Homo sapiens: one gene and its partners. The protein of the gene in region 1 interacts with the protein of each later gene in a pairwise test. Each region holds a gene or a part of one and is shown in the gene's direction. Other genes may lie near its edges. The genes, in order: SCML4, CLIC3 and RIPOR3.

Evidence for each region.
Region 2: the proteins of SCML4 (region 1) and CLIC3 interact in binary tests that used the Homo sapiens proteins (3 or more experiments, as listed by UniProt).
Region 3: the proteins of SCML4 (region 1) and RIPOR3 interact in binary tests that used the Homo sapiens proteins (3 or more experiments, as listed by UniProt).

Annotation. Positions count from the first base shown.
Region 1 is NC_000006.12:107,821,303-107,828,903, reverse strand, and holds the start of SCML4 (sex comb on midleg-like protein 4), read left to right. Parts: upstream 1-4,590; 5' UTR 4,591-4,778; intron 4,779-7,601. UniProt on the Homo sapiens protein: Putative Polycomb group (PcG) protein. PcG proteins act by forming multiprotein complexes, which are required to maintain the transcriptionally repressive state of homeotic genes throughout development.
Region 2 is NC_000009.12:136,994,067-137,001,421, reverse strand, and holds CLIC3 (chloride intracellular channel protein 3), read left to right. Parts: upstream 1-4,853; 5' UTR 4,854-4,878; coding exon 4,879-4,911; intron 4,912-5,664; coding exon 5,665-5,774; intron 5,775-5,854; coding exon 5,855-5,980; intron 5,981-6,129; coding exon 6,130-6,236; intron 6,237-6,316; coding exon 6,317-6,492; intron 6,493-6,582; coding exon 6,583-6,741; 3' UTR 6,742-6,814; downstream 6,815-7,355. UniProt on the Homo sapiens protein: In the soluble state, catalyzes glutaredoxin-like thiol disulfide exchange reactions with reduced glutathione as electron donor.
Region 3 is NC_000020.11:50,590,456-50,597,557, reverse strand, and holds part of RIPOR3 (RIPOR family member 3), read left to right. Parts: intron 1-1,168; coding exon of another isoform or gene 1,169-1,172; exon of another isoform or gene 1,173-1,258; intron 1,259-1,294; coding exon 1,295-1,418; intron 1,419-1,661; coding exon of another isoform or gene 1,662-1,676; exon of another isoform or gene 1,677-2,016; intron 2,017-2,053; coding exon 2,054-2,189; intron 2,190-2,456; coding exon of another isoform or gene 2,457-2,533; exon of another isoform or gene 2,534-2,794; intron 2,795-2,843; coding exon 2,844-3,005; intron 3,006-4,361; coding exon 4,362-4,523; intron 4,524-5,011; coding exon 5,012-5,214; intron 5,215-7,102.

The DNA of each region.
Region 1 (7,601 bases):
CGGTTTTGTCTTTAACTTTAAAAGATCCCTGCTTGAGTAGTTGAAGCTAAGATCTGGCCCCATGAAAGGCAGGCCTTTGGGTTGAAGAAGCGACAGACTGGGGAGTCAAGAGATCTGGCACCCACTCTTGTGTAGTCTGACTAATTAGGTTAACTATTTGCTGCAAAATGGTAATCATAAGCCTTATGCTTTCCATAGCCCCTAAGGTTCTCAAACTTGTGTTGAATGATGTGGAAGGGAAGCTGTGGGGCCTCTGGAGTGTGGGAGGCTGTTCTCCCTTCCTTACTACAGAAATGGAATCTTAGCTTTTCTTCGTGTTCTTTCTCCATGCTCTCTCCTCCCTACCTTTGCTCCAAATTGATATCCAAAGCTCTAGTTTACTAGGTCTTATCCTAATGAGAGAAAGGACACTTTTTGCCCCTTTGTAATTATGGCCATATCCATAATCACAACTAAGCACTCCTCCAACCCAAAGCGTCATCCTGTTTCAGCAGACCGATGTTTTGAGTTAGAGATAAAGCAGTTCTTAGGCTTGTGAAATGTCAGAGCCATAAGTGACCACAAAGATGATCTAGTCCCTTATTTCCTTGTCCCGTGTTATAGAAAGTCAATGATTTCACCCATGTCATTGGGTTAGTGGTAGGGCTGGAACAAGTGGCAGTGCCAGGATCCATGAGGTGGAATGATTAATTAGAGTATCTTTGGGCACAGACTGCCTGGGTCAGACCTGTGTCTACCACTTCTAAGCTGTGTGTCCTTGGGCAAGTTATTTAACATCCCTAAGTCTCAGTTTCCTTATCTGTAAGATGGGAATGGTATCATAATACCTACTTCATAGGATTGTCATAAATGGGATACAAAATGGGAAGGGCTTCACACATAATTCTTCAGTAAATGTTAGCTATCACTGTTATAACAAAGGTTGTTTCGGCGGTAGCACTGACTGCCAGTCCAAGACAGAATCCTCTCGATCGGATGCTTGTGTTGGAAAACACAACTCTTTAGGACAAAGGCCATTTTCAATGTGAACGGTGTCTTTACCAGCAGCTGACAGAAGGATTACTCTTCAAATGGAGGCTACTCTAAGTAGATTTGCATTTGGGACGCCCCCAAATTAACTTGCTCCCTCTGGTTGCCTCCTGCTAACCACCAGCCCAGTAGCACTCGTGTGGAGAGAGTGGAACATGCTGCTTGTGGTCTGAGACAGAAATGTAACCACAGTGCAAAGAAAATTAACAACGTGGCACAACCTAAGCACCCTTTTCATGGGACAGGGATGTACAAGACTTAGAGAGATGCTAGCTCAGAGCGGTCACTTTTCTTCTTAGCAGGTCCCTCAGCTAATACCAGTCATCCCATCAAATTTCTTTTTTCTTACATGTTTAACTTAAATTTTTCTTGGAATTAAAAACATTTAGGATTTTTTAAAATATTGATTTAAGTTATTAAAAGCTATGTTCCTGGTTGCATGAAGAAAGAAATCCCAGTAAGTTTAAATATATATATTTTAATAAATGTGTGTATATACAGATATATTTAAATAAAAAAATTTAAGTAAAAAATATAAAGATATATTTAAATAAAAATATACATTTAAGTAAAAAACAAATATATATTTAAATAAAAATGTAAATATATATTTAAATAAAAATGTAAATATATTTAAATAAAAATATAAAGATATATTTAAATAAATATATTTACATATTTATTAAATTTATTAAATTACATAATTTAATGAATAATTTATTAAATATCAAATATTTTGAATAACATATTTAAGTAAATAAATATTGTTTACTTAAATATATACATATATATAAAAAATATATATATTTTTTGAGACGGAGTCTCGCTCTGTCGCCCAGGCTGTAGTGCAGTGGCGTGATCTCGGCTCACTGCAAGCTCCGCCTCCCGGGTTCACACCATTCTCCTGCCTCAGCCTCCCAAGTAGCTGGGACTACAGGCGCCTGCCACCACTCCCAGCTAATTTTTTGTATTTTTAGTAGAGACGGGGTTTCACCGTGTTAGCCAGGATGGTCTCGATCTCCTGACCTTGTGATCTGCCCACCTCAGCCTCCCAAAGTGCTGGGATTACAGGCGTGAGCCACCGCGCCCAAGCAATCCAGCTTTTGTTGATTTCAATTTTAGGCTTTATTACCAAGTTGACCTGTTAGATGACAATGGGTGCTTCCCACATGCACCCACCTTGAGGACAAGGACAACAGTAGCCCATCTGGGAGGAGGCAAGGAGGTTGGGCCTGAGGATCAGAGTGAGAAACCCTCACAGAGCTGGGTAGGAAAACCAGCAACTCCTTTCTTATGGGTAGATTCTGCCAACCCTTTTACTTCTTTTACAGGACTTGGAGATTATTTCTGATTACTTAAGAAATGTTATTTTTTTTAATCCTAAGAAACATTTTAGAGTGAAAATTGGTCTAATGTCTCAGCCCATTCCAGGTGCTTTAAGCTCAGTGTAGTGTGGCATGTGTGAGGCCACGGGTGTGAGTATAATAACCGCTGTCGCTGGGACAGAGATGCTGTCCAAACTTAAATCATCCATCTTCTTTCCTTTTCTTTCCTTTTCTTTTCTTCTTTTTCTTTTCTTTCTTTTCTTTTCTTTTCTTCTTTTCTTTTTCTTTCTTTTTTCTTTTTTTTTGAGATGGAATTTCACTCTTGTCACCCAAGCTGGAGTGCAATGGCGTGATCTCAGCTCACTGCAACCTCTCCCTCCCAGGTTCAAGCGATTCTCCTGCCTCAGCCTCCCGAGTAGCTGGGATTACAGGCAAGCGCCACCAAGCCTGGCTAATTTTTGTATTTTTAGTAGAGATGGGGTTTCACCATGTTGGCCAGTCTGGTCTCGAACTCCTAACCTCAAGTCCAGGAGTCCCAAAATGCTGGGATTACAGGCATGAGCCACCACACCTAGCCCATCCATCTTATTTTCTTTTTTTTTTTTTTTTTTTTGAGATGGAGTCTCGCTCTGTCACCCAGGCTGGAGTGCAGTGGCACGGTATCGGCTCACTGTGAGCTCCGCCTCCCGGGTTCACGCCATTCTCCCTCCTCAGCCTCCCAAGTAGCTGGGACTACAGGCGCCCGCCACCACGCCCAGCTAATTTTTTGTATTTTTAGTAGAGACGGGGTTTCACCATTCACAGGATGGTCTCGATCTCCTGACCTCGTGATCCACCCGCCTTGGCCTCCCAAAGTGCTGGGATTACAGGCATGAGCCACTGCACCTGGCCCATCCATCTTATTTTCTTTTCTTCTCCTCTTCCTCCTTCTTTAGTGAAATCAACTTATATGAAATGAAAATGCAAACTACCAAACCTGCCTTTTCCCATACAAAACAACAAAATTTGATGATTAAATGAACTAAAGTAGTGAATTTCTTCTTGCTCAATTAATTACAAGGCTTTGACTTAAAACAATTTTTTATATTTTCATAATAAATTTCAGAGGAGAGATTTCTTATGTACTTCTAATGTGACTCTACACATATATTTAGAGAAACCTCAAGTTGTCCATTGCAGTTTTTTTCACTCTCAGTAACTGGCCAGGTTGTGGCCTAAGCCTTCGTTAGCCCTGGTTGATATTTAGTCCCGGCTAAATTTGTTTGCTGCTCATCCCTAGGAGTAAGCCACATGTTTGTAGAATGGATGTTTCATCTTGTAGGAAATACCTGTGAATATGCCAATATCCCAGAGTGGATGAAATGGGCAATGGGGAGCCCTGCTCCACTTTACAAAAAGAAAGGAAAAGAAAAGATCCCTTCGCCGATATATATTGATTTGCTGCAGAAAATGCAATGGGGCATGGGAATGAATAGTCACTCTTGCCCTGTTTCTATCCTGTGCAGGTCCCACCACGTTGAGGTGGGTAGAGATGCTTACACACACACACATACAGGCCTGGAGCCAAAGTCAGGGCCGGCTTTAATGAACTGTACACATATGTTGTGGGCAGCCGCTGATTTAATATGTACAACCATGGTGTGTGCACACACCTGGATAGGCACACTGCTCTGGGAATCACACAGGGTCTCCTGAACAATGATGCTATTGTAATATTTCTTTTTGTTTTATTTGTCCAAAGTCAAACATTCACTCTGTCAGATCACCAGTGTCTTATAAGCCTGGTGTTGGCCCACACTGCTGCAGGATTGGGACAAAGAGACGATGTTACAGTCTGGTTTCTATGGCAACAGAGGAGGGGTAATGAAAACTGAAATGTTGGAAACACCCATTCTAACCATTGTGACATAATTCAGGTTATTACAAGGATGTAACTACCAAAGAAGCAGAAGTGTCATTACCTTGCAGCTCATGTCGACAAAAAGCTACACTGCACATTTCTCTTAGGCTGCTAAGAGGAAGGAAACACAAAACACACACACACACACACACACACACACACACACACACACACACACACACACACAGAGGCCTCGTTTTCTGCATGTAAAATGTGTGTGTTCTTTAAAAGCCAGTGGTTGGCTGGTTTTCCGGACATGATGTGGTTGAAGCTGTCATCGTAATGGAAATTCATTGCTGTAGCTATGGTAAATCGAGTTTTCTGCCTGTGCTGAATGCATTAGTCTAATGAGATGTTTGCAGCTGGAGCGCAGGGCTGCTGGAGACTAACTGTGAGCTACTAACACGGGTGGAAGATAGCTTTTGCAATACTCGGTTTGCATGTGCTGAAAGTCATCTGTCTTCTGAGTCAACACTCCCGACCTGGTAAACAACCTGCTCAGGGCTCTGGTGAACAAGCTGTAGGTAAGGGAGATGCACAATTGGAGGCGTGCCGTTGACACGGGATCTTTCTCTTGTAACTGTCAGCATGACAGGTTACCTGTTTCAGTTTTTTCTGGGTTGCATGCCTACCTCTATGGCAACGCACAAGAGTGTCCTGCACTAAAACCACTGAGTCCAGTAGGTAAACTTTAGTTCCTCATATGCAAAGTACAGCATTTAATTTATTAACCAGATCTCAGAGGGGAAAATGTAACATTGAATTATATAGTTTATAAATTTGGGCTATATACATGTTCATTACTCTTTAACTCTGCATTTAAATACCTAGAAAGTTATTTTTTTCCAAATGTGAACTCAAGTAACCGGTTAGTTATTTTTTCCCTTCACGATAATTTTGCTTTGTTTTGCTTTTTAATTTTAAAAAAATTGTACTATGTCTTGGGATAAAAATATTTACCTAAAATTTGGTTATTAAAATTGGTATGTTATGAACATGTAAAAGTGTTTTTTTTCCCATTTAATTTTATTTCAAATATCCCAGGTAGAATATTTCACATGTCTTTGTGCTGGTTTTTCCTAATTTATGAGGCATAAATAAGAATAATATTTACTGCTAGTTTCTGGTTTTAATTCGTTTTTTGGGAAAAAAACTGGTGACTATGGAGTATTAGCGGCAGTTTTCCCAAGCTCAAAATCACCTCCTTCCCAGGTGGAGCACTGTGACTTGAACCAGCTTCCACGTGCTCCTCCCAAAGCATGAGGGGTCCTCTCCAGGTTGATTGCTGGCTGGACAGGAGCGGTGGATGAGGCCAGGGTGCAGGCTGCTGAGCTGTTTTGCTGAGTTGAGGTGCTTGAGTCAAAGTTCTTTCCACTATCTGTGATCGTGAACGAGAGGTGTCTCCTCGTGTTGTCTCTAGATTCCATGACGGTACTCATGAGGGTTAGACAATCAGTGGCTTTCTGAGAAAGTGGTTTTTTACTGATCTCAGACACTACAGTACTTGAGAAAGTAATCCAGGCACTTCAGAATCAGGGTATTTGTTATATGCTGTTTTTCTTTCTTTTCAACCAGAGGAACCATTTTTGAAGAATGAGGGATATAGCTGCTTTTTTTCTCCACTTTTTTTTTTTTAAAGCAAAATAGAATATCTGGAGTGAAAGCATAAAAATAACTACAAAGGAATTCTTAGTGTGTTAAACTATCTGGGGGGTATAATATTTGTGTGGAGCATTTTTTGTGTTGCTTGGTAGAACTAGTCTGATAAAATGAGGGGCTGTTTGAGCAACAGCAGCTGGGTGAAGATTACCTAGAAAATCGGTACTGCGTGATCGTCTAAACTCAAAAGGTTAATGTAGAATCTTCAGTTTTAGGGAAATTGGTGGCTTCACAAACTATAACTTTTAAACAGGCTTTTTGACAGAATTTTTAAAAAATATGAATGTGTTTTCTTTAGCTCTTTAAATTGTGTACGTAGATGAGCTCTGAAATATTTTGGTAAATTCATCAGTTTGCTTCATTTGTGGAATTATAACAAAAGTGCAAAGCCCACAAAAATCCAGTTCTTTCATGTATAACATGTTTACATTTCTTCCCTGTGTCCCCAAAATTACTTTTATTTTGCTGCAAAAAAAAAAAAAGAAAAGAAAAAAAGAAAAGAGTAAATGAACGGTAATAGAAAGACAAGAAAACAATAAGCGAAACGAGTAAGTTGCTTTTCATCATTTCTTTGCTTTTGGTGGTGTGTTTTCGAGGCGAGGGAAATCAGCAGAAGCAGTTTCACTTTCTGGTTCTTGACTCCTGGGGGTGAGGGTGAAAGGCTGTCTCCTCTAGCAAGCAGCAGGTAAGCTAAGCAGCTCAGCCCACAGAAAACAAGCCAGACCCAAATACTGTCACTTGCTGCAAGAACTTTTATAATGAGAGTTCAAAACAATATTGACTTTAAAAAAATACTCAGTAACACTTTCCTATTAAAAAATTCAAGCACTACCCCAAAGTACAAAGATAGACTTTTTTAATTTTTAAAATTTGAAATGATGAGAAAATCATCTCTGCTGTTTATGTATTTTTAATCTCAATTTTGGATCTCAAATACTTCAATACTTTTAAGGAAACATAACTGAAGTTCCCTGAAATCATAACAAGGAATGCTCGGAGAGGAATAACCTTTCTGGGAGTCTGGGGGCTTAAATGTTAGAGTGCTTCGTAGGTCTGTTTACAATTTTGTGTGGCCTGAGGACACATCACACATGTGTCCACACATCCTTTATGACACGCACCTTAAAGAACTTTTGGTCCAGGCAGAGGTGGTGGCTGGAGCTTGAAAGCCCTCACAGGGGCCCTGTTAGGGATCTGCAGGACAATTTTCCTCCCCAAGTCCCTGCCCTCGGAAACCTCAATATCACATGGGTAGATGCCAGGGAGCCGGGATGTGCCCATCCCACTCCACAAGTCCTGAAGAGCGTGGCAGGTGACACTACCCCTCATTGGGCTGGGAGCCTTAGGATACCAAGCATCTCCAGTGTCATTCTTCCCCTGAGCCCTCAGATTTTATGTGGGGATGGAATGGGAAAGAAGGGAAAGGAGATGAGAAAAGACCCTCTTTTAATCTGATTATCATGGAGCGTAAAATCTTGTCTAACATTTTGTGGATGAAGTTTGTGAAAGCAGTTGCCTTTGGTGTGATCACACAAGCTTCTTTCTTTTGGTGGGCACATCTGATGTTTCTAAGAAGGAACTTTTAAACAATGCCTCCCTAGACATCTTATTTCTTAATTCTGCCATCTCTCAAAAGGCTAGTTTTAGATTTACACATTTTTTAATGTTTTCATTGCCTTCAAAAGCAG
Region 2 (7,355 bases), on another chromosome or scaffold:
CCAGGTTCAAGCGATTCTCCTGCCTTAGCCTCCCGAGTAGCTGGGATTACAGGCATGTGCCACCACGCCCGGCTAATTTTGCATTTTTAGTAGAGACAGGGTTTCCCCATTTTGGTCTGGCTGGTCTGGAACTCCCAACCTCAGGTGATCCACTCACCTCGGCCTCCCAAAGTGCTGGGATTACAGGCGTGAGCCATGTGCCTGGCCTAGGGGCCAGGGTTTCAACACACAAATTTTGGGGAGGACACATTCAGTCCCTAGCAGAACCCTGGTTCCTTTTAGGGAAGATGGGCTTTGGGACCAGAATCTGAGCTCTGGTCTGCACACTGCTCCCGAGGTCTCGCTGCCCCCGAGGTCCCGCCGCCCCCGAGGTCCCGCCGCCCCCGAGGTCTCGCCGCCCCCGAGGTCACGCCGCCCCCGATGTCTCGCCGCCCCCGAGGTCTCACCGCTCCCGAGGTCTCACTGCTTCTAGGCTCTCTCCATGCACAGAGCAGATAAATCTCTGCACAAGTTTGCACCAATACCCCAATGCCCCCAGCCCTCCGGCCCCCCAAACAGGTGTGTGTCTCCCTTCAGAACAGAGCTGCTCAAATGTCACTGGGGTGTGGCCCTGTGCAGGCGGAGGCAGGAGGATCACTGGAGCCCAGGAGGTGGAGGCTGCAGTGAGCTATGACTGCGCCATTGCACTCCAGCCTGGGTGACAGAGTGAAACCCTGTCTCAAAAAAAAAAAAAAAAAAAAAAAAAAAGAGCCCCTTGGAAGGGGCCTACAGGGAGGGGTGTTGGGGAGGGAGAGAGTTCTAACCCACCAGTCAGTCAGTCCCAGAGCAGCAGCCTCGGGACCTCAGCTTGGGCCCCTCTAACGCTGGCTCTATGAATCAGGAGCAGGGGCTGCAGGGGACGGGAGGTTTAGGGATAACCCCGTGGCCTCGGGGACCAGGGTCTAGTTAAGGTTAGTGGCTGTGATACTGTTCTTACTTCAAAACATTATGAAATTGTGGTAGAAAATGTGGTATTACAAAAATGTGGTAGAAAATGCAAACAGTGTGGACAGACAGGAAGCAAAACTGAAAGCCTGTTTCTGCCTGTCAGGGGTCATCCCACAGACAGCTCCTTGCGTCTTTTTTCAGCTCTGTTCAAGTAGAGACTCAGAATGACAGATCCTAATGCTGATTTTCTTCCATTTCCTGGCTTCTCCCTGCTTTACTTATTAGCTTGCTGGCGCTGCCATGCAAAGGACCACAAAGTGAGGGGTTTAAAACAACAGAAACTGACTTTGGGAGGCCGAGGTGGGCGGATCACTTGAGGTCAGGAGTTTGAGACCAGCCTGACCAACATGGTGAAACCCCGTCTCTACTAAAAATACAAAAATTAGCCAGGCGTGGTGGTGGGCGCCTGTAATCCCAGCTACTCGGGAGGCTGGGGCAGGAGAATCGCTTCAGCCGGTGAGGCGCGGGTTGCAATGAGCCGAGATTGAGCCATTGCACTCCAGCCTGGGTGACAGTGAGACTCCATCTTAAAACAACAACACCGCGGGGCGCGGGAGCTCACGCCTGTAATCCCAGCACTTTGGGAGGCCGAGGCGAGCGGATCACGAGGTCAGGAGATCGAGACCATCCTGGCTAACGCAGTGAAACCCCGTCTCTACTAAAAATACAAAAATTAGCCAGGTGTGGTAGCGGGCGCCTGTAGTCCCAGCTACTTGGGAGGCTGAGACAGGAGAATGGCGTGAACCTGGGGAGGCAGAACTTGCAGTGAGCCGAGATTGTGCCACTGCACTCCAGCCTGGGCGACAGAGCAAGACTGCATCTCATTAAAAAAAAAAAACAAAAAAAACAGAAGCTCACTGCCTAGCAGTCTGGAGGTCAGACATAGCACCTAGGCTTGGGCAGGGCTGCTTCCTCCCAAGGGCCTTGGAGAGCATCCGCTTGGCTCCCAGGCTTACAGATGTGCCACCCTGATTTCTGCCTGCGGCCCTCCCTGTGCATCTGTGTCCAAACTCGCCTTTCTATACTGACATCAGTCATATTGGATCAGGGCACATCCTACTCACCACATTTTAACTTGATAACTTCTATAAAGACCCTATTTCAGCCGGGTGCGGTGGCTCACACCTGTATTCCCAGCATTTTGGGAGGCCAAGGTGGGTAGATCTTCTGAGGTCAGGAGTTCGAGACCAGCCTGATCAACATGGTGAAACCCTGTCTCTACTACAAATACAAGGAAAAAAAAAAAAAGCTCAGCGTGGTGACGTGTACCTGTAATCCCAGCTACTCCAGAGGCTGAGAAAGTAGAATTGCTTGAACCCAGGAGGCAGAAGTTGCAGTGAGCCGAGATTGCACCACTGCATTCCAGCCTGGGCAACAGAGCAAGACTCTGTCTCAAAAAAAATGTTAAAAAGCCCCTGTTTCCACATAAGGTCACATTCTTTATTTTTTTTCCAAGATGGAGTCTTGCTCTGTTGCCCAGGCTGGAATGCAGTGGCACTATCTCTGCTCACTGCAACTCTGTCTCCCGGGTTCAAGCACTTCTCCTGCCTCAGCTTCCCGAGTAGCTGGGATTACAGGTGCCTGCCACTATGCCTGGCTAATTTTTGTATTTTTAGTAGAGACGGGGTTTCACCATGTTGGTCAGGCTGGTCTCAAACTCCTGACCTCAGGTGATCCACCCCCCTCGGCCTCCCAGACTGCTGGGATTACAGGCATGAGTCACCGTGCCCGGCCCATATAAGGTCACATTCTGAGGCACTAGGGGTTAGGACTCCAGCCTAAGAATTTAAATTTAAGGGGACACAAGCCACGCCATTTACCTAATCTCAGGCCCTCCCTGCAGTGGGCATGCATGGAGTCACCTTTTCCGTCCTTCTCCCTGGACACAACTGGAGTCTCCCATAGACAGGGTGGTGGCCGTGCCACGGAGCCACGCCACGCCACGCCACGCCACGCAGTGGGGCAGCCAGCACTCACTTGCCCTTCACAGGGAAACCGGCCGGGTGTGGCAGCTCGCGCCTGTAGTTCCAGCACTGTGGGAGACCAAGGCAGGTGGGTCACTTGAGCCCATGAGGTGGAGACCAGCCTGGGCAACATGGCAGGACCCTGTTTCTAGTAAATAAATGAATTGATTAAACCATAAAAAAAAAAGGAAGCCACCGGGCTGATTCCCAGGTGGCGAGGGCACAGGGGGGTGTTGGATGGCCACTGCCGCTCCACAGTCCACAGCCCACGCCCACAGAACGCAGTGGGGCCGCTGCAGCGGTGAACCGAGTCTTGTTGGTTTGTTTCTTGAGACGGGCGTGAGGTGAATGGTCTTCCTGTGTCTTGTTTTCTTTTTCCTTCTGAGCCACCGGTTCACGGCCTCTGTCCGTGCCGTCATTTTTCCTGTGGGTTTGTGAGGGTGCGTCTGTCGGTGTTAAAGACACAGGATGCCGGGGCAGCAGAGGGGGCTGGGGGCCTGGGGCTTCTCTGTGGTTGGCCATTTGCCTGCCAGGGATGTGGGAAACCAGCAAGCGGAGCTATAACCACAGTGTCCAGAAAGAGCTGAAATACTAGGGCTTGGAATCGAGGTGGAGGCCGGATGGAGGGAAATTGAGGTTCAGGACACCAAAGGATGGGGCAGCCACATGGTATTTCCAAGGCTCTGTGTCCAGGAGCCCCGACTGGCGTGGTATCCAGAGAAGCATCAGGCTGGGCTGACTGGGGCAGCACTGGAGTGTGTTCCACCGGGGACGGATGAGGGGCCCGTACCAAGGCCCTGGGGAGAAGGTGAGCAGGAGAGCAGTGCCACCTCAGCTGCCCTGTCCAGGCTGGTGAGGCACCACACCGCCTGGGGGAGGTGTGGCCAGGCCAATCCTGTGGGCACCCCAGGTCTCTGGGTGGAATCTCCCCTCGGTGTACCTCCCTGGGGCTGCACCCTAAAGCGTCAGGGCCAGGTGGGAGGAAGGCACAGTTGGCGACCCCAAAGGGCCAGACTGAACTGTGGGTTCCAATCACGCCAGGAGGCTCAGCGCAGGCTCACACCTGTGGACCACCACCCTCCCCTGGCCTCTTTCTTCCAGCCACGCAGGCTGTGGCTTCTAACCCCTCTCCTGCTGCTTCTTTTTAAAGGTTAAGGGGTTGGGGGTAAGAAACCTGCGCTGAGCGCCAGTGGGAGGGATGGGAGGTGGGGTGGAGACCTGCACTGCCGGCCAAACACCAAAGCCAGGCTGGCCTCCCCGCCCTGTTGCGGGCAGGTCTGGAATTTGAGCCCTGCCCTGAGCGGGGAGGGCCCTGCCTGACTGCTCCGTAGCTGGGAAGGGGCGGCTCCCCCAGGTGGGCTTATCACCCTCCCGATGCCCTGGTGCTGCAGATGGGGAACTGAAGCCAGGCTGGGCAGGCCATTTCTCCTGCTCACCCACACCCACTGGCTTTCTGGGCTGGGAGCCCTGACAAGGGGTATTTGCGGAAGGGAGAGCCATAGGGCAGGGTCTGAGCTGGGTTCACGGTGGAGGTGGTCCTGACCCAGAGCCGCCCCCTTCCCAGGTGACACCCCCTGCACCCTTCTGGCCTGTAGGCTCTCCCTATGCCCTGCCCCCTGGTCTCCACCCACCACGCTGGCTCCCAGCACACTCAGTACCGGGTGGGCGGATCTCCGTGCACACCAGACTCAAGTCCAGGGCAGCCCCCCACACCATTCCGCCACCCTGAGGTCACACCCTCAGGCTCAGACACCCCGGGGCCGGGCTGGCGTTGCTCAGGCAGCTGGTTCTGCGCGCTGGGCAGCTTCATCTGCCCGCCTAGGTGGCTCCACGGGGCGGGCCCCTCGGCCAGGGAGGGCGGGGCGCACAGGGAGACTTAAAGAGCTCCCCAGGTCCCCACCCGCGCCTGACCGCGGCAGCTCCCACCATGGCGGAGACCAAGCTCCAGCTGTTTGTCAAGGTGCAGGGCGGACTCAGCTGCGGGGAGGGTGTCTGGGAGGAAGCGCTTTTCTGGGCTTTGCTTTCTGTGGCAGGCTGTGGGGTGGGCCTCCCAGTAATGTCTGAGCCCCTTCCTGTGGGTGGCTAGGGGGACTCAGGCAGCCCTACAGAGGCTGAGTAAAGTGGGACCCAGCGAGTCACCCAGAGAGGGGTCAGTGGCCCTGGTCCTGCTCCCAGCCTTGGCTCCTGGGCCCAGCCCAGTCTTCTGGAGGAGAGCTCCTTGGTGGGGAGGTACCAAGCAGGCTGCCAACAGTGGAGCTTACGGTCGGTGTTCCAGGATGGGGGGTGCTGGGCCAGGCAGCCCCATCAGCTCTCAGGTCGGGGACTGGGGTGGGGGACTGATGTGCTGTTGGCCACAGTGCCCAGTCTCATGTGTGAATCACTCAGAAAACAGCTTGTGAGGCCCACCCCACCCCTGCAACCAGCTTTTGGGGACTGAGCCCAGGGGCCTGGCCTCTGTCCAGGCTCTGACAAGATTCCAGGGGCCAAGCCTGCCCCAGGCCTCAAGGCTCCCAGCAGCTCTGCCCCCCTCCCCACGTTCTGGGGACCAAGTCAAGGGCCCTCACTGGGCACTTGGAAGTCGCGCCGACCAAGCTGGAGCCCTGGCGTCCCTCCAATCCCACTGGCAGTGGGAGGCGGGTCCCGCCCAGCCTGGCGGCAGGATGCCTGGGTCTGCTTCCAGCCCTGACCCCCCACCCCCGCTCCACCCACCCAGGCGAGTGAGGACGGGGAGAGCGTGGGTCACTGCCCCTCCTGCCAGCGGCTCTTCATGGTCCTGCTCCTCAAGGGCGTACCTTTCACCCTCACCACGGTGGACACGCGCAGGTGAGGCCCCATCCTGTGGACCCCCGCCTGGCCTCGCACACTGGTGGGCCGGCCTCCTCCCACCCCGCTGCTGCCCGCAGGTCCCCGGACGTGCTGAAGGACTTCGCCCCCGGCTCGCAGCTGCCCATCCTGCTCTATGACAGCGACGCCAAGACAGACACGCTGCAGATCGAGGACTTTCTGGAGGAGACGCTGGGGCCGCCCGAGTGAGAGCCCCGGCAGGGTGGGAGGGGAAAAGAGGGGGGCCCAGGGAGGACGCGCGCAAGACAGAGCCCAGGAAGGCGCTGTGGGGGTACTGTGGGGCCGGGACGGGGCTGCCCCCAGTCTAATGGAGTCCCACCCCCTCATCCCGCAGCTTCCCCAGCCTGGCGCCTCGTTACAGGGAGTCCAACACCGCCGGCAACGACGTTTTCCACAAGTTCTCCGCGTTCATCAAGAACCCGGTGCCCGCGCAGGACGAAGGTGAAGCGGGGTCAGGGGGTCGGGTGCCCAGGCGGGAGGGCGCCCTGGGCCTGGTCCTCACCGCGCCGCCTGCCCCCTAGCCCTGTACCAGCAGCTGCTGCGCGCCCTCGCCAGGCTGGACAGCTACCTGCGCGCGCCCCTGGAGCACGAGCTGGCGGGGGAGCCGCAGCTGCGCGAGTCCCGCCGCCGCTTCCTGGACGGCGACAGGCTCACGCTGGCCGACTGCAGCCTCCTGCCCAAGCTGCACATCGTCGACGTGAGCACGGAAGGTGGGCGGGCGGGAGGGTGACCGCGGCGCGCCTGGGGGACGGCAGGTCCTGACCGCGCCCCGCGATCCTGCCCGCAGACGGTGTGCGCGCACTTCCGCCAGGCGCCCATCCCCGCGGAGCTGCGCGGCGTACGCCGCTACCTGGACAGCGCGATGCAGGAGAAAGAGTTCAAATACACGTGTCCGCACAGCGCCGAGATCCTGGCGGCCTACCGGCCCGCCGTGCACCCCCGCTAGCGCCCCACCCCGCGTCTGTCGCCCAATAAAGGCATCTTTGTCGGGAGTGAGGGTGTCCTGACATCTGAAGGGCCAGAGGTCTCGGGATCACTTCCCATCCCCAAACCCCAGGGTGGGACGCTCAGCCCGATAGCCCAGAACCACAGGGGCAGGAGCGCCGGGGGTCGGGCCGGTCCCATCCTCCACGCTAAGAAGGCGCAGACTCCAGGCCTCCTGCAACCGGTGGCCTCAGGGATCTCCAGGACCGGACTGGGCTCCCAAACCAGTCAGGCCGGGGTGGGGCGGGGTGCCCCAGGTGGATGGGGGCTGGCACATTCCTCAATCCTGTCCCGGGGCAGGCGCTCCCCTCCCCGCAGGGCACTTCCAGTGTCTCAGGGTCTACACGGGACTTCTGTCTGCATCCTCCCACGGGGCTCCGTGCCCTACCTGGGTGCGGCCTGGGAGGGTGGGAACAAAGTTCTAAGCCTTGGGGAGCCCTGGCCCTGCCTGGCTGGGCCCCTCTCAGCTCCTGGGCTGGCAGGGCTGGAATAGCTGGACGGTCTGAGAGTGCTCACCTCCCTCCGGCCCAGCAAGGAAGTCTCCAGGGAGCTGAGAGGCTGCAGCATCTGTTCACA
Region 3 (7,102 bases), on another chromosome or scaffold:
GTGACCCAGTGGCCACCACTCCCACCGGGTGACCCGAGCTCCACGTTTCCTGCCAGCCTCCCCGTCTGTTTCTCCCACTGTCCTTGGCTCAGCTCTTGTCACTCTATCGTGCACCCTTCCCCATGCCATCCCCGCACATCCCCCACTTGCCTCAGAGCCGGTCCTCAGAGACCACGAAGTGGGTGAGATCACCCCAGCCTGCCCCTGAGCCTTCTGCTCCAAGGAACCAGCTTTTAGTATTATTTTTTAAACCTTAAAAATAATCACCAAGTATATAGTAGAAGTTCTTTGAGGCCAGGCACAGTGGCTCACGCCTGTAATCCCAACACTTTGGGAGGCCGAGGCAGGCGGATTACCTGAGGTCAGGAGTTCAAGACCAGCCTGGCCAACATGATGAAACCCCGTCTCTACTAAAAATACAAAAATTAGCTGGGCATGGTGGCAAGAGCCTGTAATCTCAGCTACTCAGGAGGCTGAGGCAGGAGAATCACTCGGACCCGGGAGGCGGAGGTTGCAGTGAGCCAAGATGGCACCACTACATTTCAGCCTGGGCGAAAGTAAGACTCTGTCTCAAAAAAAGAAAAAGAAAAAGAAAAAAAAAGCTCTTAGCCCCTAACCAAGGTGCAGCAGTATCCAGTGCTGTTCCCTCTGTCCCACCACAGGGCCCACACCTCTCATGACAGCTTCCCTCGAGGCTACGCAGCCTCACCTGCCCCAGCCCCCGAGGGCTTCTGCATCCGCATCTCACCACATGGAAGAGCAGAGGCTCAATTCCTTCTCCTCGCCTCTCACAATCCCACGGACGAGTGCGGTGTTTCGTGCCACACTTGCTTCCACCCTTCCTGAGTGGCTGAGTGGGTCGGGCAGCAGGTCTAGCCTCTACCACAGAGTGGACTTGGTGTGAGGCGCTCTTGCCCACCGTATTTCATGCACCCCTCACGGCCTTGAGTGTGGGGCTCCTGCCTCCCTTGATAGATGAGTCACCTGAGCCTTGGGGAGGCAGACTTGTCCAGCGTCACAGAGCTGGGATGAGTTGGAATTCTCTTCTACCTCCACGAGACATCCTGGAAGACGACTGCCCGCCCTGCCTTCCCCAGGCCCTTGGCCACACCTCCCAGCTCTGTTTCGAGTTGCTGCCACCCTTTGTTCCTTTCCCCTTCCTCTTCAGTTGAACTTCCTGGGACCTGGAGTGGGCCTCCTGACCTGGGGCTCGCTGGGAAGGGAGGGTTCCCCCACCCTCAGAGGGAGCTGAACTGCTAACTGGAATGGTCACCCAGTTCTCAATTCAACTCAGAAAGGACCGGCCCCTGCCCCCACCGTCATCACTGAAAGCGTCATCCAGGGAACTCACAGCCGGTGCCCCAGAGCTGGACGTGCTGCTGATGGTACACCTCCAAGTCTGCAAAGCTCTGCTGCAGGTGGCTGGGCTAGGGGACTTGTCAGGGAGGGGCAGACAGGGGTTTGGAGTCCTCTTTGCAAAGGCTCATCTTGAAGGTGGTGGGAAGCATGAAGGGGTGACAGACCTGCATCCTGGAAGCCCGTGAGACTGAAGCTATTCCCCAGTGGAAGAGAGGCAGACCAGGGTCTGGGTGAATACTCGTGTGGCTCTTACACAGGCCAAGCCCTAAACCAAAGGCTTTGGTGGTGACTCTCATTTATAGGTGCCAGAACCCTAATGCAAACTGGCTCAGCCAACAGGAAAATTTATCGGCTCATGGTACTGAAAGCCTCAGAGGTAGGCTTCAGGCTCGGCTGGATGCACGGGTTCAAATGCTATCAGGACTAGGTCTCTCTCAGTTCTGCTTTGCAATGTGGGTTGGCTTCACTTTCAGGCAGGTTGGTCCTCCTTCTGGGGGCAAAGGTGGTCCCTGGCAGCCCAGCCTGCATCCCATTAGCTCAGCCACCTTGGTGAAAGGGGAATCCCCAAATGACAGTCAGGGAGCTGCCCCCGGGACAGAAGAGATGGGCACAAGCAGGTGGGAGCCACAGCCGTAACAGCTGACCTCGGTGGGCATGTTCCATGCTAATCTGGAGCATCTGGGCTGCTTCCCAGAAACTGGCCTCCCCTAATTTATCAAGGCTGGTCCAGGAATGCCTCCTGGAAGAAGTGGCACAGCAAAAGCACGTTCTGGAGACACTTTCTGTCCTTGACTTTGAGAAGGTCGGCAAGGCAACATCCATTGAAGAGAGTAAGTAGCTGCCTGCCACCCAGGGGCTGCCTATGTGAGCGGCACGGGGACGGGATCAAAGCTCGGGGAGCCTCTTCTGCCTTCCTAATAGCCAGAGTTAATCGGGGCCCAGAGTGGAGGCTGTGGCTGGGCTGGGCTCAGAGATACACACTCTTTGTGGGGAGGTAAGGGAGACAAGTCCTGGAGTTGCAGCACACTCTTCAGTCAGCTGTGTGACTCTAGGCAAATGATTCACATCTCTGAGCCTCTGCTTCCCTATCTGCATAGGAGGAGGGCACTGCACGGGGTTCAGTGAGGTAACCCCAGGCCACATTCAAGGTGCAGAATGTGCCGTCAAACAGTAGCTGTGATCCCAGCTGTGCCTCTGCCCCGTGGGACCTCCCCTCAGAAGGCCAGGTTCCTTGTCTGTAAGGAGAGGCTGGTGACAGCAGCCCCTCCCAGGTTGTTGTGGGGACTGCAGGTGGTGGCCCTGGTAAGATGCTTAGAGCCAAAGTTGCTCACGTGTCACATGGGAATGCAGGGAAGGGACCTCGCATCAAGCCACACCGTCCCCTCCTCCCTACCCCCTCAGGTCCTAGTGGAGGGAAACCTTTCGGGTCCTTGTCATGTGCTCTCCCCGAGTCACCATTCAGGTTTCTGAACTGGGGCTTTCAGTCATCCCACAGGCCTCGCGGACGAAGGGGTGCCTGAAGCTGTGGAGAGGGTGCACAGGGCCTGGCAGGGTCCTGTCCTGCCCTGCCACGACGCTGCTGAACCAGCTCAAGAAAACCTTCCAGCACAGAGTCAGAGGGAAGTACCCAGGACAGCTGGAAATAGGTGGGTTCCCTTCTGTCCTGTCGTCCCCTCCCACAGAAAGGCTGTATTGAGTCTCCAGGGCCTTCAGGGTGGCCACAGCTGGCCTCATTTCAGCCCTGTCTTCACCTCTGTGTCTTCATGCCATCGGACGGAGGAGCTTTCTCAGCTTCAGTGCGAGTCACCGCCCTTTCACCGGGCGAGAAGGGGCCTCCACGTGGGGCCTTCTGAGCAGTCTGTGGAGCCCTGAAGCTGCGTGCAAACTTGGTGGGCCGGTGCATTTTTTTTTTTTTTTTTTTTTGAGATGGAGTCTCACTCTGTCGCCCAGGCTATAGTGCTGTGGCACAATCATGGCTCACTGCAACCTCTACCTCCCGGGTTCAAGCGATTCTTCTGCCTCAGCCTCCCGAGTAGCTGGGATTACAGGTGTGCACCACCACGCTTGGCTAATTTTCTTTTTTTGTATTTTTAGTAGAGACGGGGTTTCGCCATATTGGCCAGGCTGGTCTCGAACTCCTGACCTTGTGATTCGCCCGCCTCGGCCTCCCAAAGTGCTGGGATTACAGGCATGAGCCACTGCGCCCGGCCGCCAGAGCATTTTTCTGGGGACAGATTCCATGCCTCCCACCAGAGCCTGACGGGTAAAGAATGAACCTTATGGGAAGGGAGGCAGGCAGGGGCCCACGAGGGTATCTAGAAATGCTGGCTGGACTGCGTTCTTCCCCAGAATTTGCCTTTCTCTGTGGAGCAAGTGAAAGGTGACAGTCATGTTCCAAGCACCACCTGGACTGCTTGTTGACATGCATATTCCCAGGCCCTGCCTCCGGGATTTTGATCCAGGTGTGGTGTGGGGCCCAGGGCATGGGGATGAACCCAACACGGTCTGACTCAGGGTGAGTTGGAGTCACAGTCCTGACTCTAGCTGGGCACACTCCTCCCCTACAGCACAGGGAATGCAGTGAGGGACACCTGCCCTCGTGCCATCAGAAACCCTTTTTTTTTTTGAGATGGGGTTTCACTCATGGTTGCCCAGACTGGAATGCAGTGGCGCAATCTTGGCTCACTACAACCTCCACCTCCCGGGTTCAAGCGATTCTCCTGCCTCAGCCTCCAGAGTTGCTGGGAAACAGGCAGGCACCACCACACCCAGCTAATTTTGTATTTTTAGTAGAGATGGGGTTTCACCATGTTGGTCAGGCTGGTCTCGAACTCCTGACCTCAGGTGATCTGCCCACCTTGGCCTCCCAAAGTGCTGGGGTTACAGGTGCGAGCCACTGCGCCCGGCCCAGAAAGCCTTTTAGCTGACCAGGCTACTCCCAGCTGAGAAGCGTGGAGGGTCGAGGTCTCAGTTTCTCCTGATGTACTCTCCCCTTTGGCCAGCGTGCCGCAGGCTCCTGGAGCAGGTGGTCAGCTGTGGTGGGCTGCTCCCCGGAGCTGGGCTCCCAGAAGAACAGATCATTACCTGGTTCCAGTTTCACAGCTACCTGCAGAGGCAGAGCGTCTCTGACCTGGAGAAGCACTTCACCCAGCTCACCAAGGAAGGTAAGACTGGGGTGGGTGGCTGTCATAGCAGAGGAATATCCACGGAGCCCTGTCACATGCAGTTTCTCAGGTTATAATTCAGAACCACTACATCCATCCCCGCCAACTGTTCTTTTGGGAACCCCGATTTAATGAGATTCTGCGTTCAGCCGATGGGGGCTGATATTAGCTCCAAGGGAAGTCAGCTTTAAAAAGCACGGAACAGAGGTCAGAGCTGGGTAGGAGGGTGATCTTGGCTGGCCAGAGTCCCTGGAAGTGTGGGCTGTGGTTTTATTAATTTATGGAGCATATTTGACCCCTTGTTAAAAGGCCTTCCTGGAGATTCCAGGAGCTCCCTGTGAAATTAGTCCAGGCTGGGCCTTGGTGATCATCCCGGTGGGTCTGGGATTTGTTCCTCTGTGGCTACTGGCAGCAGCCAAGCAAACTTGCAGCTGTCCTGCCAAACTCCCATTCAGGGGACCTGGGCCCACCTCTTTCCTGTCTTCTAGTGACACTCATCGAGGAGCTTCACTGTGCGGGACAGGCCAAGGTGGTCCGGAAGCTGCAGGGGAAGCGGCTGGGCCAGCTCCAGCCTCTGCCCCAGACCTTAAGAGCCTGGGCGCTGCTCCAGCTGGACGGCACTCCGAGGGTGTGCAGGGCGGCCAGCGCTCGCCTGGCTGGTGCAGTCAGGAACAGAAGCTTCCGGGAAAAGGTACGTTGTCCAGGGCAGGTGGCAGACCCTGGCCACAGATGTGTGGGCATAGGTAAGCTGGTGTTCTCATGGAAAAGTACAAAGAAGTGAGTGCCAGGGGCTGCAGTAGCTGTGAGCTATTTTGATGGAGGGACCTGGGCTACGATCTAACACACATGAATGCACCTTGCTGCTTCCAAAGCAACACATCTGTTAGGCCTCTGAGATGTCACTTGCACGCTGAATGTTTTTCTTAGTGCGTTTTTTGTCTGTCTGTTTAGACAGAGTTCTGCTCTGTTGCCCAGGCTGGAGTCCAGTGCCACGATCTTGCAACCTCCACCTCCTGGGTTCAAGCAATTCTCCTGCCTCAGCCTCCTGAGTAGCTGGGATTACAGGCGCCCACCACCATACCCAGCTAATTTTTGTAATTTTAGTAGATACAGGGTTTCACCATGTTGGCCAGGCTGGTCTCAAACTCCTGACCCTGCGATCCGCCTGCCTTGGCTTCCCAAAGTGCTGGGATTACAGGCGTGAGCCACTGCGCCCAGCCTTTCTTAGTGTTTTGATAGTCATCCTTATTTACTTTCAATTAATATTCATGGCTACCTGGTAATGGGTCACTGTGTTCAGTCCATTTGAAAACCAAGAGAGTGGACCTCTCTGCTTTTTCACTCTTTGCCTGTAACTACTGTACGTTTAAGGCGCCACACCCTGAGGGGTTCAGGAAGGGTGACATCAAGGGCATAGTCTACACTGATGGTCTCAGCTCCAGACTAGAGAGGAAATCTCCAGTTCCATTGCCAATAGCCCTTCTTGGAGCCCATCCGCCTACTTTGTGGTTGTTTTTAACTCTTTATTTGGAGACTTTTGAACTTGCAAAAGTAGACAGAGCAATATAATGAATCCACCTGCACCCATAACCCAAGCCCAACCACCATCAACCCATGGCCAATCCTGCCCCTTTCCCCTCCACTCCCCTGTATCACTTTGAAGCAACCTGAGGCATCCTATTTGACCTTAAATAGTTAACTATATGTGTCAAAAGGTTAAGAATTCTTTCAAAAATCACAACTCTAACACCATTATCTTATCTAAAAAATTAACTATCAATTCCTTTATATCATATATCTTATGTTCAAATTTCCAAGCCTCAAGCATCCTGTTTTATTTTTTGTTAAAATAGTATCTACATAAGGACACACATTGTGATTGGCTGATGGCTTCCAATCAATCTAAAGGTTTTTTTCCCCGTTTCTTTCTCTGCTTGCAATTAATTTGATCGATCCCAGGTTGACCTAGACTATCTAGACTTTGCTGCTTGCAGGAAGTTTAACGGTAGTTTAATGTATTTCTCTGTCTTCTGTAGTTCCTGAAAACTAGTAGTTGGCTTCAAGGATCCACTGAAGTCAGGTGTATTTTGTTTTTTGGGTATGGGGGTATATAAACAAGGCCTCCATGGGAAGCAGAGGCTGCAGGGAGCCGAGATTGTGCTACTGCACCCCAGGCTGGGCAACGAAGTGAGACTCTGTCTCAAAAAAAAAAAAAAAAAGGGCCTTCATCTTCATGTGACAGACTTTAGAGAGTAGGAAACACTGAGGTGGGGGCCAACCCAGTGACAGATTGCTTGGCCTCAGATGAGGGTGCTGAGGAAGGAGTAGGCTGCCATGACCTGGGACCCTGGGGTTAGAGGCAGTGGGCAGTGTGACATTTCCACACCGATGTGGCCTCACAGCCTTCACCAGAGCCCTGTGTAGGAGGAGCGGGAGGACCCGATCCTACTCCCAGTCTGTCTTCCCAAAGCAGCAGACACTTTGGAGAGCCACCTGCAGATGGAAAGGCGGCCATTCTCTTTTGGCTCTGGGCCCAGGTCCCTGGAGCCAACTCTACACCTGGGCCCCTCCATCGCCCC